Regions from separate parts of the Homo sapiens genome. Here region 1 is linked to region 2. The links come from fine-mapping of genetic effects on gene expression. A gene starts in region 2. The other region holds a variant in brackets. All regions are shown on one strand. Distances are from middle to middle. Region 1 overlaps RGL3 (ral guanine nucleotide dissociation stimulator like 3). Region 2 holds the start of PRKCSH (PRKCSH beta subunit of glucosidase II).

Region 1 (8,504 bases), 38 kb before region 2:
TGGTCTCAAACTCCTGGGCTCAAAATCCTTCCACCTTAGCCTCCCAAAGTGCTGGGATTACAGATGTGAGCCACCACACCCAACCTCTTTTTCTCTTCTTTGCACAGATGGGTTATCTGTGACAGGAAGAGGAAGAAGGTGAGGGCAAGTGAAAGGGCCCATCCTCACAGCCCTTATTGACTCATGGGTAATGATGCTATTTGTTTCTAATTCTGATGGAATTTCAGTTAGTCACTCTCCCATATATACAGTAGAAAAGAGGCATATCACCCCAAAAATGTTGGGGAAGGAAGTCCTAAACCCTCTTTGTGTGATAGGATCCTTTATTTATTTATTTAGTGAGATGTGATCTCACTGTATTGCCCAGGCTGCTCTCGGACTCCTGAACTTAAGCAATCCTCTTACCTCAGCCTCCCAAAGTACTGGGATTACCCTCCTGAGCCACTGTGTCCGGCCAGACAGGATCCTCTCTGGCATCTGGGTTGAGTGTCATACCCGACTCAACACCTTTCTTAGGGCTCTTAGTTTTTTTGTTTTTGAGACAGGATCTCCCTCTGTCCTCCAGGTTGGAGTGCAGGGGCCCAGTCACTGCTCACTGCAGCTTCAACCTCCCAGGGCTCTGGTGATTCTCCCAGCTCAGCCTCCCAAGTAGGTAGGATTACAGTCTCATATCACCACACTCAGAAAATTTTTTGTTTGTTCATTTGTTTGTTTGTTTGTTTTTGAGATAGGGTCTTGCTCTGTCACCCAGGCTGGAGTACAGTGGTGTGATTTCCACTCACTGCAACCTCCACCTTCCGGGTTCAAGCAATTCTCCTGCCTCAGCCTCCCCAGTAGCTGGGATTACAGGTGCATGACACCACGCCCGGCTAATTTTTTGTACTTTTAGAAGATGGGGTTTTGCCATGTCGGCCAGGCTGGTCTCGAACTCCTGACCTCAGGCGATCTGCCTGCCTTGGCCTCCCAAAACGCTGGGATTACAGGCGTGAGTCACCACGCCCAGCCAAATTTTTGTATTTTTTGTAGAGACAGGATCTCGTTATGTTGCCCGGGCTGGTCTTGGCTCTTAGGTTTCTCTCTCTCTGTGTGTTTGTGTGTGTGTGTGTGGGTGTGTGTGTGGTAGCTGTTTTCCTTTATCTTGATAAAGGGTGAACATGGCACACAGGCGCAAAATAAACAAGACTGACACCTGTTTCATAACTCTGGTCACTATTTTCATCCGCATCTGTCACTTCTGATGCGTCTCTAACATTTATAAGATTTCTCTGGGGAGGGATTTGACGTATCCATGCCCCACCTCTTTCTACATTTATGGGATTGAGCTCTCCACCAGCCACCCATGGGCTGATGTCTTTGGAATATGGATCTAGTACCAACAGAGTCAGAAAAAGAGATGGGGTCCAATGGGCTACAGTTGGGTGGTGGTCCTGGGATACACAGCACAGTGGCCTCTACTGGGGGATGGCAGCTTTCCAGGAGAAGAGTCGCAAGCTTGCCTGTGGGACTTGTGTCTTGTGGAGAGGACAGGGCTGCCTCAGCTTGGGGAGACAGACAGAGTGTTCCGGGTCCCCTCTTTCCGCCGCAGCATGAAGTCTCTGGGGGCGACTGGACTCATGGCATAGAAGACGTTGGCATTGTCAGGAATCAGGAGCACTGGTCAGGAGTGGAGATGGTGGTAATAGGCCCTCACAACCTTGTGTCACCCCCACAGAGGACCCGGGAGCCTCCTGCCACTCACCCGCGAACCTGAACAGCCATGGGTCCCTCTGCAGCTACTGCCAAGCCAAGCTCATTCTGCTGTCACTGGGAACCTGGACGACTTCTCACTTGAAAACTTGCACCACCTCATGCCTTCCCTTATCATAAGCCTGGGCAACCTCCTAATATTCTCCCCCTCACCATAGAGACAAGGCAACCTGCAGTAAAAGTTTGAGCAAACTGGCCGGGCGCGATGCCTCGTGCCTGTAATCCCAGCGCTTTGGGAGGCCGAAGTGGGTGGATCACTTGAGGTCAGGAATTCGAGACCAGTCTGGCCAACATGGTGAAACCCCGTCTCTACTAAAAATACCAAAAAAATGAGCTAGGCATGGTGGCACATGCCTGTAATCCCAGCTACTCGGAAGGCTGAGGCAGGAGAATCTCTTGAACCCAGGAGGTGGATGTTGCGGTGAGCCGAGATCCTGCCATTGCACTCCAGCCTGGGCAACAGCACGAGACTCCATCTCAAAAAAAAAAAAACAAAAACAAACAAAACCGACAACCTGCAGTAAAAGTTTGGGCAAACTTAGACCACCCTAGACCACCCCCCGCCAAACAACTTCCTGCTCACCCTACCCCTCCCCCACAACCACTCCCAGCCAATCCCATGCTGCTGTCACCATGAACTTGAATAACTTCCCACTTCCAGCCTGCACGAGCTTGTGGCCTCACACTCAACACCTGAACAACCACAAGCATCCTTTCCTAATATCCAGCCAACCTCATGCCATGTACTTCAGCGTGAATACGCTCAATCCCTTGCTTCTCCCTGTCAGACAGGACAATCTCATGCTTCCGCGGCTATCCATTTGCCTCTCTCCCGTCCCAAGTTCAGATAACTTCAGGGTCCCAGTGGTGAACAAACTTAGTTCTCACAAATCTAAGCCCAGATGCCCTTTAGTCTCCCATCCCATCAGGTTGAGCCTGAACAATCTCATGATGCTACAAACTTAAGATCAGACAAACTTCTACACTCCCTTCTCTCACTCGACCCTAGACAATCTATTTTTTCTTTTTTTTTGAGACGGAGTCTCACTCTGTCGCCAGGCTGGAGTGCAGTGGCGCAATCTTGGCTCACTGCAACCTTCACCTCCTGGGTTCAAGTGATTCTTCTGCCTCAGCCTCCTGAGTAGCTGGGACTATAGGCGCCTGCCACCATGCCTGGCTAATTTTTTGTATTTTTAGTAGAGACGAGGCTTCACCATGTTGGCCAGGATGGTCTCGATCTCTTGACTTCGTGATCCACCCGCCTCGGCCTCCCAAAGTGCTGGGATTACAGGCGTGAGCCACCATGCCCGGCCCCCTTTTTTTTTTTTAATTGAGACAGGGTCTTGCTCTGTCACCCAGGCTGGAGTGCAGTGGCGTGATCTCAGCTCGCTGCAGCCTCCACCTCCTAGGCTCAAGTGATCCTCCCACCTCAGCCTCCCCAGTAGTTGGAGTTGGGAATACAGGCACATGCCACCATGCTCAGCTAATCTCTCTCTCTCTCTCTCTCTCTCTCTCTCTCTCTCTATATATATATATATATATATATTTTTTTTTTTTTTTTTTTTTTTTTTTTGAGACAGAGTCTTGCTCAGTCGCCAGGCTGGAGTGCAGTGGTGCGATCTCGGCTCACTGCAACCTCCGCCTCCTGGGTTCAAGCGATTCTTCTGCCTCAGCCTCCCGAGTAGCTGAGACTACAGGCATGTGCCACCATGCCCAGCTAATTTTTTTGTATTTTTAGTAGAGACGGGGCTTCACCATGTTGGCCAGGCTGGTCTCGAACTCCTGACCTCAAGTGATCCACCCGCTTTGGCCTCCCAAAGTGCCGGGATTACAGGCGTTGAGCCACCGCACCCAGCCAATTTCTCTATTTTTTGTATAGATGGGGTCTCCTCATGTTGCCCAGGCTGGTCTCAAACTCCTGAGCTCAGACAATCCACCCACCTTGACCTCCCAAAGTGCTGGGATTACAGTTGTGAGCCACCATGCCCAGCCCATCCTACAAATTGAAGGTCAGAAACACTCCCTTCTGTCACTTGTCCGTGGACAGTCTTTTTTTTTTTTTTTTTTTTTAAACAGAGTCTCGCTCTGCTGCCCAGGCTGAAGTGCAGTGGTATGATCTCGGCTCACTGCAACCTCCGCCTCCCAGATTCAAGCAATTATTCTCCTGCCTCAGCCTCCTGAGTAGCTGGGACTACAGGAGTGTGCCACCACACCCGACTAATTTTTGTATGTTTCGTAGAGACGGGGTTTCACCACGTTGGTCAGCCTGGTCTCAAACTCCTGACCTCAAGTGATCCGCCCAGCTTGACCTCCCAAAGTGCTGGGATTACAGACATGAGCCACTGCGCCTGGCCGGACCCTGGACAATCTTATTGTCTTTTAAATTTTAGGAAGATGACCTTTGGTACCTCTCTCTCACACTGAGCCAAGACAATCTCATGACCCTACATCGTTGGGTTACAGGTATTTTATGTCCTCTTACCTCCACTGATTATCTTACCCCTACTCTCTGCCTGAAGCACCTCACAGCCCTGTGAACCCGGGTAACCTTGGGCTCCATCCTTGGGCGTGGTCAGTCTGCTCGCCTCCCCGCTGCCCCCTATCCTGAGCTCCAACCCATCCCTGCTCACCCCGGTCCCCAGGAAGGACTTGAAAGAGCTGATAGTCACAGGCCCAGGGCTGGGGCACATTGTGCTTCTGCAAGGCTCGCCGGACCACGCTGGGGGCTTTGTCCTGACTGGTCAGCTGGAAGAGAGGGGCGGGAGGTGAGGTGAGGGCCCCGGCCCCAAGGGCAGGGCAGCCTCCAGCAGACCCCCAGCCCAGCCCCTCACCAAGATGCTTCGATACAGGTTCCCGTGGTCATTGTCGATGCTGACGCGGATGACACGGGCCTCCGAGCTCTGCTGCGCCGGGAGGGGGATTCGAGGGCTGCCCAGAGGCAAAGCGAAGGGCCGGGGGCTGGGCAGGTCCAGGCTCAGGGGCAGCTGCAGGCAGTAAGGGGTGGAGGCTACAGCTTGGCCCATCTGCAGATGCTGAGGGCTAGAAAAGCACGAACACCCCAGCCACCACTGGTGCATTCAATAGCCCCACATTTAAAATCTCAAGAAAACATTGGCTGGGCGCAGTGGCTCATGCCTGTAATCTCAGCATTTTGGGAGGCCGAGGTGGGCGGATCACTTGAGGTCGGGAGTTCAAGACCAGCCTGGCCAACGTGG[T/C]GAAACTCCGTCTCTACTAAAAATACAAAAATTAGCAGGGCCTGGTGGCGCATGCCTGTAATCCCAGCTACTTGGGAGGCCGAGGCAGGAGAATCACTTGAACTTGAGAGGCAGAGGTTGCAGTGAGCCAAGATCACGCTACTGCACTCCAGCCTGCGTGACAGAGCAAGACTCCATCTCAAAAATAAATAAATAAATAATAAAATAAAATAAAATCTCAAGAAAACATACTACTACCCCCTACACATGCAGAGCCTGGGACATGCAACTGGAGTACATTCACAAGCCTGCATATACACCACCCTACCATATACAGACTTTGGTTACCTGTTATAGAAACAGACATGAACAGTGTCCATATACACACAACCCATGCTCATACACAAGAAATCCTGTGTACATACATATGCTGACAGCGGTTATACACCCACAGCCCATGCCAATGAACAACCCCACACATGATCTCATGAATACTCAGGCCCACATTTCCTCTTCTGGTACACAGATTCTTTTCTTTTTCTTTTCTTTTTTTTTTGAGACAGAGTCTTGCTCTGTCACCCAGGCTGGAATGCAGTGGTGCCATCTCAGCTCACTGCAACCTCTGCCTCCCAGGTTCAAGCAATTCTCATGCCTCACCCTCCCAAGTAGCTGGGATTACAGGCCTGTGCCACTATGCCCAGCTAATGTTTTTATTTTTAGTAGAGACGGGGTTTCACCATGTTGGCTAGGCTGGTCTCAAATTCCTGGCCTCAAGTGATCCACTGGCCTCGGCCTCCCAAAGTGCTGGGATTACAGGCATGAGCTACCATGCCCAGCCTTCATTTCCTTCATTTCCTTTTCTTTTTTTGTTTTTCTTTTAGAGGGAGCCTCGCTCTGTCACCAGGCTGGATGGAGTGCAGTGGCACCATCTCAGCTCACTGCAACCTCCGTCTCCTGGGTTCAAGTGATTCTCCTGCCTCAGCCTCCCAAGTAGCTGGGACTACAGGTGTGCGCGACCATACCCAGCTAATTTTTCTATTTTCAGTAGAGACAGGGTTTCACCACGTTGGCCAGGATGGTCTCGATCTCTTGACCTCGTGATCCGCCCACCTCGGCCTCCCAGAGTGCTGGGATTACAGGCGTGAGCCACCGTGCCCAGTCTCTTTTTCTTCATAAACAGGATCTCGCTCTATCATGCAGGCTAGAGTGCCGTGGCATGATCGTAGCTCACTGCAGCCTCAAACTCAAGCGATCCTTCCACCTCAGCCTGCTGAGTAGCTGGGACTACACCCAGCTAATTTTTTTGACTTTTAATAGAAATAGGGTCTCACTATGTTGCCCAGGCTGGTCTTGAACTCCCGGCCTCAAGCAATCCTCCCACTTTGGCTTCCCAAAGTGCCGGGATCACAGGCAATAGCCACCGTGTCTGCCATGGTATGCAGATTCTTAGGGACATACATGTCCTCAAAAAAGTGTAGGCTGGGTGCGGTGGCTCACACCTGTAATCCCAGCACTTTGGGAGGCCGAGGTGAGTGCATTGTTTGAGCTCAGGAGTTCGAAACCCACCTGGGCAACATGGCGAAACCTCATCTCTACTAAATAAAAAAAATAGCAGGGCATGGTGGTGCACACCTGTGGTCCTAGCTACTTGGGAGGCTGAGGTGGAAGGATTGCTTGAGCCTGGGGGAGGGGTGGAAGTTGCGGTGAGCTGAGATTGCACCGCTGCACTTCAGCCTGGGTGACAGAGCAAGAAGACCCTGTTTCAAATAAAAAGGGGTGTGATGTGATTGCACCCTAGATGACCCATGGGCAAGCAGTTACACAGGTCCAAATCTGAGCACGAGTCGGATTTATGAGTGATCACCCAAACAGGGCCGTGCAGATGCATGCAATCCCCTGGATGGATACCCCGGGCGCTCAGTGTGCCTCCTGTATACACTCCTGGCCCCACAATCCTGTGTGTACACATGTGCATGCACACACACGTGCACACACACAGAGCCTGGGTGCCCGCAGGCCCGCATGCACACACAAGCCGTCTTGGTACCTTGGTGCTGGGGCCCTGGGGCCCTGGAGAGGCCGGGGGACTGCCAGCAGGAGCATCTCTGCTTCTAGGACTTGAGGGGGGTGACCCTGGGGACACACTGGGGGAGATGCAGAGGCTGAGGTGGGGTGGCTGTGCTGACTCCTGATCCCATGATCCCCAGTCCCATCACCAAGCAGAATGCTCACCTGGAGGTGGGGGATGAGGGGTCCCCGGGACTCCCACTAGGTGATGAGCTTTTCTCTCGGGCAAGCTTCCTAAGGATGGGGACAGGGGATGAGGCTAAGGCAGGAGCAGCCCTTGCTGATATCTGCCCACATCACCGCCCCTACACACACCCCGAGACTCACGCACTGAGACGCTTGGTGAGGCTGATCCGCCGTCGGATGCGTGGGGAGCTGGGGCAGGAGGCAGCTGGTGGCTCAATGACCCGGGAGAGCCGGTAGCTGAGGGGTCAATATGTGGATGAGGTGGTGGGGGCAGGAAATACAGGGGATGGAGAGATAAGAGTTGGAATCAGTTGGGAGGTGGGTTTGGGGTGTAAGGGGGAGCAGCCAGAGGTGGCACCCCACATGCCAGGGTCAGGGTGGTAAATGAGGGTCATTGAGCATCAAGGTCTTATCAGAGATGGGACAGGATGGCTGGTCAGGAGGTCACAAAGAGATTCACAGGGTGGCACTAAGGAATCAAATTGGGTCAGGATTAAAGTCAGGGTCAGGACTGGGTGCAGTGGCTCACGCCTGTAATCCTAGCACTTTGGGAGGCTGAGGCGAGAGGATTGCTTCGGGTCAAGAGTTCGAAACCAGCCTGGCCAATATAGTGAAACCCCGTCTCTACTAAAAATACAAAAAAAATTAGCCAGGTGTGGTAGCTCGCGCCTGTAATTGCGGCTACCGGGGAGGCTGAGGCAGTAGAATTGCTTGAACCTGGGAGGCGGGGGCTACAGTGAGCCGAGATCACTCCACTGCACTCCAGCCTGGGAAACAGAGCCAGACTCTGTCTCAAAAATAAATAAATAAATAAATAAATAAATAAATAAATAAATAAATAAAATAAAGTCAGGGTCAGACTGGGGTCAGGTCACCATTGGGGTCAATGGTTAGGGTCACAGTTATATAGAAAGAAAGGACACAGTTGTCATAGTCAAGCTGGACAGTCAAACATAAAAGTTGGAGTCAGTTACTCAGAACTGAGGGTCAAGGGTTGGGGTCAGAGAGTCAGATGAGGGGTCATGAATAAGGTCATGGGTCAGATAGGACCAAAGATGGGGAAGTCAACAGATGGGACAGTTGAGTTGAATGGCCAGCTGAATGCTAAAGTTGAGGTCAGAAAATCAGATGGGGTTGAAATTGAGGTCAGAGGTCAATTGTGACTATTTTTTTTTTTTTTTTTTTGAGACAGGGTCTCACTCTGTCACCTAGACTGGAACTGCAGTGGCGTGATTTTGGCTCACTCCAACCTCTGCCTCCCAGGCTCCAGCAATCCTCCCACCTCAGCCTCCCAAGTAGTTGGGACCAACG
Region 2 (8,476 bases):
TGGTCTCGAACTCCTGACCTCAGGTGTTCCCAAAGTTCTAGGCCCCCTAAAGTCCTAGGATTATAGGTGTGAGCCACTGTGCCAGGCTCATCAACTTAATATTATAAGAATGCAGTCGTTGACCAGCCTGGCCAACATGGTAAAACCGCATCTCTACTAAAAATACAAAAATTAGCCAGGTGTGAGGCTGAGCATGATGGCTCGTTCCTGTAATCCTTGCACTTTGGGAGGTAGAGGCGGGCGGATCACCTGAGGTCAAGAGTTCAAGATCAGCCTGGCCAACATGGTGAAACCCCATCTCTACAAAAATACAAAAATTAGCTGGGCATGGCCGGGCACGGTGGCTCACGTCCATAATCCCAGCACTTTGGGAGGCCAAAGTGAGCGGATCACGAGGTCAGGAGATCGAGACCATCCTGGCTAACATAGTGAAATCCCGCCTCTACTAAAAATACAAAAAAAAAAAAAAATTAGCCGTGCATGGTGGCAGGCACCTGTAGTCCCAGCTACTCAGGGGACTGAGGCAGGAGAATGGTGTGAACCTGGGAGGCAGAGCTTGCAGTGAGCCGAGATCGCACCACTGCACTCCAGCCTGGGTGACAGAGCGAGACTCTGCCTCAAAAAAAAAAAAAAAAAAAAATTAGCCGGGCATGATGGTGGGTGCCTGTAATCCCAGCTACAGGAGGCTGAGGCACAATAATTACTTGACCTCTGGAGGTGGAGGTTGCATTGAGCTGAGATCCTGCCACTGCACTCCAGCCTGGGCAACAGAGCAAGACTCTGTCTCAAAAAACAAAACAAAACAAAACAAAAAACCCCAAAATCCTTCCATACTCAAGTCCCACAGTCAGCCCTGTGGAACCTGCAGATACAAACAGTTGTCCCTCTGTATACTCAGGTTTTGCATTCCAGGACTGTTGTATTTTCTTTTCTTTTCTTTTTTGGGACTGGGTCTTGCTCTGTCACCCAGAATGAAGTGCAGTGGTGCTATCACTGCTCACTGAAGCCTCAACCTCCTGAGCTCAAGCAGTCCTCCTGCCTCAGCCTCCCAAGTAGCTAGGACTAGAGGCATGTGCCACCACATCTGGCTACTTTATTTTTTGTAGAGTCAAGGATCTCACTATGTTGCCCAGGCTGGTCTCGAACTCCTGGCCTCTAGCAATCCTCCTGCCTCAGCCTCCCAAAGTGCTGGGATTACAGGTATGAACCACTGTGCCCGGCCTGCCCATCTCAATTTTTTTTAACTTGAAAGGATGAATGATATATGTGAACACATGGTGTTCAACGGTCAACTGTACTTCACTGTGAGCATTTATTATGTGTTGGATGCTGGACTAAGAGGTTTCCGAATGCCATATATCACGTGCCAATAGGTATCCATGGCATACGCATATCATACCCCTTGCACAGATGACAAGACAGAGGCTTGGGCTGATTAAACTGCTTAAGGTCACAAGCAACCATGCAAGATTACCCTTTTTTTTTTTTAAGACGGAATCTCACTCTGTCACCCAGGCTGGAGTGCAGTGGCGCAATCCTGGCTCACCGCAACCTCCACCTCCTGGGTTCAAGCCCCTCTCCTGCCTCAGCCTTCCAAGTAGCTGGGATTACAGGCGTGCGCCACCATGCCCGGCTAATTTTTGTACTTTTAGTAGAGATGGGGTTTCACTATGTTGGCCAGGCTGGTCTCAAACTCCTGACCTCAAATGATCCGCCCACCTCAGCCTCCCAAAGTGCTGGGATTACAGGTGTGAGCCACCTCGCCCAGCCATGATTACCTCTTAATAATATCAACAAAAGCAATAATAATAGCTTACACACAAGGATTCTGCAACCTCAGGATGACCAACAACTGGGCCGAATAATTATTTGCCGTGGGGTGCTCTCCTGTGTTTTGCAGAATGTTGGGCAGCATCTTCAACTCTGCCCACTAGATGCCAGTGGCAGACACACACCCACAACAGACATCCATGCCACCATGCCCGGCTAATTTTTTGTATTTTTAGTAGAGACAGCGTTTCACCGTGTTGGCCATGCTGGTCTCAATGTCTTAGGACATTGCCAAATGGCCCCTGTGGGGCAAACCAACCCTTTTCCAACAAGAACCACTGGTTTACACCTTATGGTACTTTGCTATGTGCCAGGCACTGTTCTAAGCACTTTACACATTTCAGGTACCTATGTTGTACTGTTACTATCCCCATTTCACACATCGAGAAACTGAGAACAATTAGGTTACTCTTAGTCCCCCAAGGTTGGACAACTATTATGCAGAGCCAGGATTCCAACCCAGAAAATCTGGCTCTAAAAATCTATGCTCAGGCCAGGTGCAGCGGCCCATGCCTGTAACCCCAGCACTTTGGGAGGCTGAGGAGGAAGGATTGCTTGAGCCCAGGAGTTTGAGACCAGCCTGGGCAGCATAGTGAGACCCCATCTCTACAAAAAGTAAGAAAATTAGCCAAGCACAGTGGTGTATGCCTGTAGTCCCAGCTACTCAGGAGGCTGAGGTGGAAGGATCGCTTGAGCCTAGGAGGTCAAGTCTGCAGTGAACTGTTATCCAACCACTACACTCCAGCCTCAACAGCAGAGCAAGACCCTGTCAGAAAGAAAGAAGGCTGGGCGCGGTGGCTCACACATGTAATCCCAGCACTTTGGGAGCCAAGGCCGTGGATCACTTGAGATCAGGAGTTCGAGACCAGCCTGGCCAACATGGTGAAACCCAGTCTCTACTAAAAATATAAAAATTAGGTGTGGTGGCACGCACCTATAGTCCCAGCTAGTCAGGAGGCTGAGGCTCGAGAATCGCTTGAACCTTGGAGGCAGAGGTTGCAGTGAGCCGAGATCATGCCACTGCTCTCCAGCCTAGGCGACAGAGCAAGACCCTGTCTCAAAAAACAAAAAACAAAACAAAAAAAAACGCGGGTGCAGTGGCTCACGCCTGTAATCCCAGCAGTTTGGGAGGCCGAGGCGGGCTCACGCCTGTAATCCCAGCAGTTTGGGAGGTCAAGAGATTGAGACCACCCTGGCCAATATGGTGAAATCCCTCTGTACTAAAAATACAAAAATTAGTTAGGCGTGGTGGCGTGTGCCTGTAGTCCCAGCTACTCAAGAGGCTGAGGCAGGAGAATCGCTTGAACCCGGGAGGCGGAGGTTGCAGTGAGCCGAAATCGTTCCACTGCACTCCCACCTGGCAACAGAGTGAGATTCTGCCAAAAAAAAAAAAAAAAATAGAGAAAATAAATTACAAGAAAGTATGAAGTACAGTTCAGTCGGTTCTGAACCCATGAGAAGTTTTAAGAGACAGAGAAGGAAAAACATGAACTAAGTATGAGTTTTTGCCCAGAAACGGTTTACCTAGACTCATGCTGGAGAAATACCTTTGTCACACCATGAAGATTGGATGGGCACTGTTGACCCCTGACCCTCTGTACCCTCTGGAGCCATCTTACCTAACAGTTGTATCTTTTTATGTAACTCAGCCACCTGAGAGTGCACAGAGGGCTTCCCTGCACCTCTGTGGAAGGATCCTCCCTTGGAACGGCCTGGGGTCCACGCCTGGGCTGTGCCCTTGCCTCGGAGGTGGCTGGGTTTGCCCGAAGCCTCCCTGCCCTTGACCCTGGAAGAGGGCGTCGAAGCCTGGTCCTGAGGAGGCAGGGCGTTGGCGGAGGCCGCCCTGCACAGAGGAGATGTCATGATGGGGTTGGGGCTGAAGGCCCCTAGGGGTTAGGGGGATAACTAGGAGTCAGTCGCCCCTGTCAGGGATCCGTCAGCTCGGATTCCTAGGGCTCTGAAAAATGCACTTTCCGACCGCTAGGTGGTTGCGCTCCGCATCTCTCGGTTGCCAGGTAACCGCCTCCCCGTCTCTCTCCACTGTTTCCATGGAGATCACCCGCGTTCCGTGGCTGACACTGCGTTCTCATTGGCTGAGGCTGCATAGAGGGGCGGTCCCAACAGTGGGCGGGGTAGAGCCGCGCCGCAGGACGGAGGGTCTGGACACTTTGGGGTCACGTGCTCATTCCGTTTCCCTACCTCCCCCAACCTTATCCCGCCCCTGGGGGTTCGCGGGCATTTTTCAGGAACTTTCTTTCCGGCTTGAGAAGCCGCCACTCCCAAGATGGAGGTACGCTGCGCCGCCATTAAGAGCTAGCCCTCAGAACTATCCTCTCTAAGGTTTCACAGTCCTGCCCAAGATGGCCGTCTCGGCTCTGGCACCGCCCCCACTCCTGCCTCTCCCAACATGGCGACCCTGAGTCTCCGTTCCCGGTGCGGAACGTACGACCGGAAGTGACGGGGTCCAGAAATTTCCGCTTTCTTTCTGCAGCAGGAACCGCGGCTGCTGGACAAGAGGGGTGCGGTGGATACTGACCTTTGCTCCGGCCTCGTGTAGGTGTGAACGAGCGGGTGGGAGGGCACCTCAGTTTCTTACAGGGGGCAACCGGAGGGTGCATGTGTGGGTGTGGACGGCGGAGGCTGTTAATCCCTTTGGTCTGTTGGCGGGAATTGGGTCACAATTGGGCACAGGGAGCGGAGGTTTTGAGATCTTGAGATCCTCGCCATTGATTTGAGCAAAGTGAGACTGGCCAGGATTGGGGAGATCGCTGCCCCTCGCCCCCATATCGGAAACAAAGTGAGGCCTCATTGCCTGGAAGCGATGGAGGAATCCAATTGGCTGGAAGTAGCCCTCTCCCACTGACCGGGATCCGCTTTCTTCCTGCAGCGTGAAGACACAGCGCATCTCCCCGCTGTAGGCTTCCTCCCACAGAACCCGTTTCGGGCCTCAGAGCGTCTGGTGAGATGCTGTTGCCGCTGCTGCTGCTGCTACCCATGTGCTGGGCCGTGGAGGTCAAGAGGCCCCGGGGCGTCTCCCTCACCAGTGAGTCCTCCTGTTCACCCTCCCGCCAGGCTGGAGGTGGGAGGGGCCAACATTGGGCCTTAGGGATAGGCATTTACAGCCTTTTGACTCAGTTTCCCGGTAGTGCTCCGCTGGTGGGGATGGGAGGACAGAGGTGGTATTTGGTGGAGAAGGCGCTTACCTGCCCTGGGCTGAGCTTCCTGTACCCCGCAGATCATCACTTCTACGATGAGTCCAAGCCTTTCACCTGCCTGGACGGTTCGGCCACCATCCCATTTGATCAGGTCAACGATGACTATTGCGACTGCAAAGATGGCTCTGACGAGCCAGGTGAGCCTTTTCTCTGTTCATCCATCAGATGTTTATTGAACACTGCTCAGTGCCAGGCCCTGTCTGTGTGACCAAGATACTACCTCTGCTGGCTCCCCTTTGAGTGGGCAGAAACAAGCTCAGAAGTCAGTGGTCAGTGTTATGGCCCCGGGCAGCTGGAGGAGCCCAGAGTCGTCCTCCTCCCAAGCCTCGGGGTCAGAGAAGGCTCCTCCAAGGAGGTGAGGTTTCAGTTGAATCCCGAAGGTGCTGCAGATGGAGGGGTCAACACGGGCAAACCCCTAGAAGTGGGAGACAGGGTGGGGCCAAGAGCAATCCAGCAGGAGACAGAGGTGAAGGGAGACCCTGGCTTTTTGTTTTTGTGTGTTTTGAAGAGACAGGGTCTTGCTTTGTTGCTGAGGCTGGAGTACAGTGGCATGATCGTAGCTCACTGCAGCCTGGAACTCTTGGGCTCAAGTCATCCTCCTGCCTTGGCCTCCCAAAGTGCTGGGGTTACAGGTGTGAGCCACCGTGCCTGGATGAGACCGTGTCTTTGGTTTTGTTTTTGTTTTGAGACGGAGTCTTGCTCTGTTTCCCAGGCTGGAGTGCAGTGGCGCCATCTCGGCTCACTGCAAGCTCCGCCTCCCGGGTTCACACCGTTCTCCTGCCTCAGCCTCCTGAGTAGCTGGGACTACAGGCACCCACCACCACGCCCAGCTAGTTTTTTTTTGTATTTTTAGTAGATACAGGGTTTCACTGTGTTAGCCAGGATGGTCTCGATCTCGTCACCTTGTGATCCACCCGCCTCGGCCTCCCAAAGTGTTGGGATTACAGGCGTGAGCCACCGTACCTGGCCTTGTTTTGTTTTGTTTTTAATTTTTTTTTTTGAGATGGAGTTTCACTCTTATCGCCCAGGCTGGAGTGCAGTGGCATGATCTTGGCTCACTGCAGTCTCCACCTCCCGGGTTCAAGCGATTCTCCTGCCTCAGCCTCCTGAGTAGCTGGGATTACAGGCACATGCCACCACATCCGGCTAATTTTTCGTATTTTTAGTAGAGATGGAGTTTCATCGTGTTGGCCAGGCTGGTCTCAAACTCATCACCTCAGGTGACCCACCCGCCTCGGCCTCCCAAAGTGCTGGGATTACAGGTGTGAGCCCCCGTGCCAGGTGGAGACCCTGTTTTGAAGGGCCTCAGTGAGAAGAGGCAGGAGGCGGCACTGGAGAGCTTTATTTCGAGCCCTGGCTGTGCAGTGTACAACTCTTTCCTTCCTTTGGTTTCCTTTCCTTTCTTGTGCTGTGTGCAGTGTGGGTCAGGGGCTCTTATCTGTGGATGGATGGGACATGTCTGTCCCTGAGCTGACTCCGAAAACCTTCCCTCCCTTCTTCCTCACAGGCACGGCTGCCTGTCCTAATGGCAGCTTCCACTGCACCAACACTGGCTATAAGCCCCTGTATATCCCCTCCAACCGGGTCAACGATGGTGTTTGTGGTAAGTGAAGATGCACCAGGATTCTGGAAAGGTGGTAGAGGGAGGGAGGGAGGAGGCACTGCCAGGTCTGATCTTGGCTTCTGCCTCTGCCACAGACTGCTGCGATGGAACAGACGAGTACAACAGCGGCGTCATCTGTGAGAACACCTGCAAGTACGTGGGTGACAGTACCCCTCCCATCACCCCACCCCAAGACTTTGCCTGGCTCCACCCAGTGAATCGGGCCCACTCTCTCTTCTGCTTTTCTGTATCGGGTTCTCTGTCTGTGCCAGGTGCCTTGTGAATCCTAATCCCCACCTTTCCCTCTAGTCTGGAAGCAGGTAGGATTGTTTCCCGATTCAACAGATGGGGGAACTCAAGTTTAGAAAGGGAAATGACTTCCCCAGGGTCACATAGGAGATAGCAGAGCCGGCACTTGGACTCTAAACTTTCCATTGTCACGCTCTGCAGCAGGTCCTGAAAACCGAAACACCCACAGGCAGGTAAAGTATACAACGGAAGGAGGCCAGGCGCGGTGGCTCACACCTGTAATCCCAGCACTTTGGGAGGCTGAGGCAGGCGGATCACGAGGTCAGGAGATCGAGACCATCCTGGCTGACATGGTGAAACTCCGTCTCACTAAAAATACAAAAAATTAGCTGGGTGTGGTGGCGGGCGCCTGTAGTCCCAGCTACTCGGTGGGCTGAGGCAGGTGAGTGGCGTGAACACGGGAGGCAGAGGTTGCAGTGAGCCGAGATCGCACCACTGCAATCCAGCCTGGGCAACAGAGTGAGACTCCGTCTCAAAAAAAAAGCAAAAAAAAAAAAAGCATACAACAGAAGGAGGCCAAGTATGAGGCAATACGGAGGGGTGGGGATTGTGGCATCTAGGGGAACAGCTGTTCTCAATTCCTGCCAGCTGATCCTTTTGTAGTTCATAGGCATGATGATTTATTTTTATTTATTTATATTTTTTGAGACAGGGTCTCACTCTGTCGCCCAGGCTGGAGTGCAGTGGCGTGATCTTGGCTCACTGCAACCTCTGCCCTTCGGGTTCAAGCAATTCTCACACCTCAGCCTCCCAAGTAGCTGGGAATACAGGCGTACCCCCACCACGCCTGGCTAACTTTTGTATTTTTGGTAGAGATGGTTTCACTATGTTGGCCAGGCTGGCCTCGAACGCCTGACCTCAGGTGATCTGCTCGCCTCAGCCTCCCAAAGTGCTAAGCCGCCGCGCTTGGCCACGATGATTAGGTTTTTATGCACGTGTGAGAGATACGCCTCCCTTAAACCTTGTTGCGACCTTGGCGCATTACCTGTCTGATATGAAAAAATAAGACCCGGCTCATGGTGGCTCCTGCCTGTAATCCCAGCATTTTGGGAGGCTGAGGCAGGAAGACTGCTTGAGCCCAGGAGTTTGAGACCAGCCTGGGCAAAATAGCGATACCCTATCTCTATAAAAAGTAAAAAAAAAAAATTAAAAAGTAAAAATAAAAATTGGAAATTATAATTTAAAAAATTACTGGTTGGGCATGTGGCTCACACCTGTAATCCCAGCACTTTGGGAGGCTAAGGCGAGAGGATCACCTTAACCCAGGAGTTTGAGACCAGCCTGGGCAACACAGTGAGACCCGTCTCAGAAAAATTTTTCTTTTCTTTTTTTTTTTTTTTTTTTTTTTTTTTGTGAGACAGAGTCTCACTCTGTTGCCCAGGCTGGATGGAGTGCAGTGGCGCGATCTCGGCTCACTCTAACCTCTGCCTCCCGGGTTCAAGCGATTCTTCTGCCTTAGCCTCCTGAGTAGCTGGGACTACAGGCATCCACCACCACACCCGGCTAAAATTTGTATTTT

What was found.
Region 1: its variant is fine-mapped to the expression of PRKCSH in whole blood (TOPMed, PIP 0.95).

Annotation. Positions count from the first base shown.
Region 1 is chr19:11,392,868-11,401,371 of GRCh38, forward strand. It overlaps RGL3 (ral guanine nucleotide dissociation stimulator like 3), which reads right to left. Exons shown (of 19, transcript NM_001035223.4): 14 at 7,335-7,430; 15 at 7,173-7,241; 16 at 6,988-7,084; 17 at 4,578-4,730; 18 at 4,377-4,491; 19 at 1,193-1,653. The coding sequence ends at 1,535. Among named protein-coding and RNA genes, the nearest start is that of EPOR, 13 kb to the left of the region's middle. The variant T/C (reference allele first, on the strand shown) is at 4,962.
Region 2 is chr19:11,431,324-11,439,799 of GRCh38, forward strand. PRKCSH (PRKCSH beta subunit of glucosidase II) reads left to right here and starts at 4,312. Exons shown (of 18, transcript NM_001289104.2): 1 at 4,312-4,383; 2 at 4,718-4,873; 3 at 5,066-5,182; 4 at 6,553-6,648; 5 at 6,744-6,801. The coding sequence starts at 4,795. ODAD3 (outer dynein arm docking complex subunit 3) reads right to left here and starts at 3,798. Exons shown (of 13, transcript NM_145045.5): 1 at 3,450-3,798. The coding sequence starts at 3,693. It also overlaps the pseudogene LOC124904800. RefSeq lists enhancers at 3,917-4,416, 3,990-4,399, 4,650-4,869.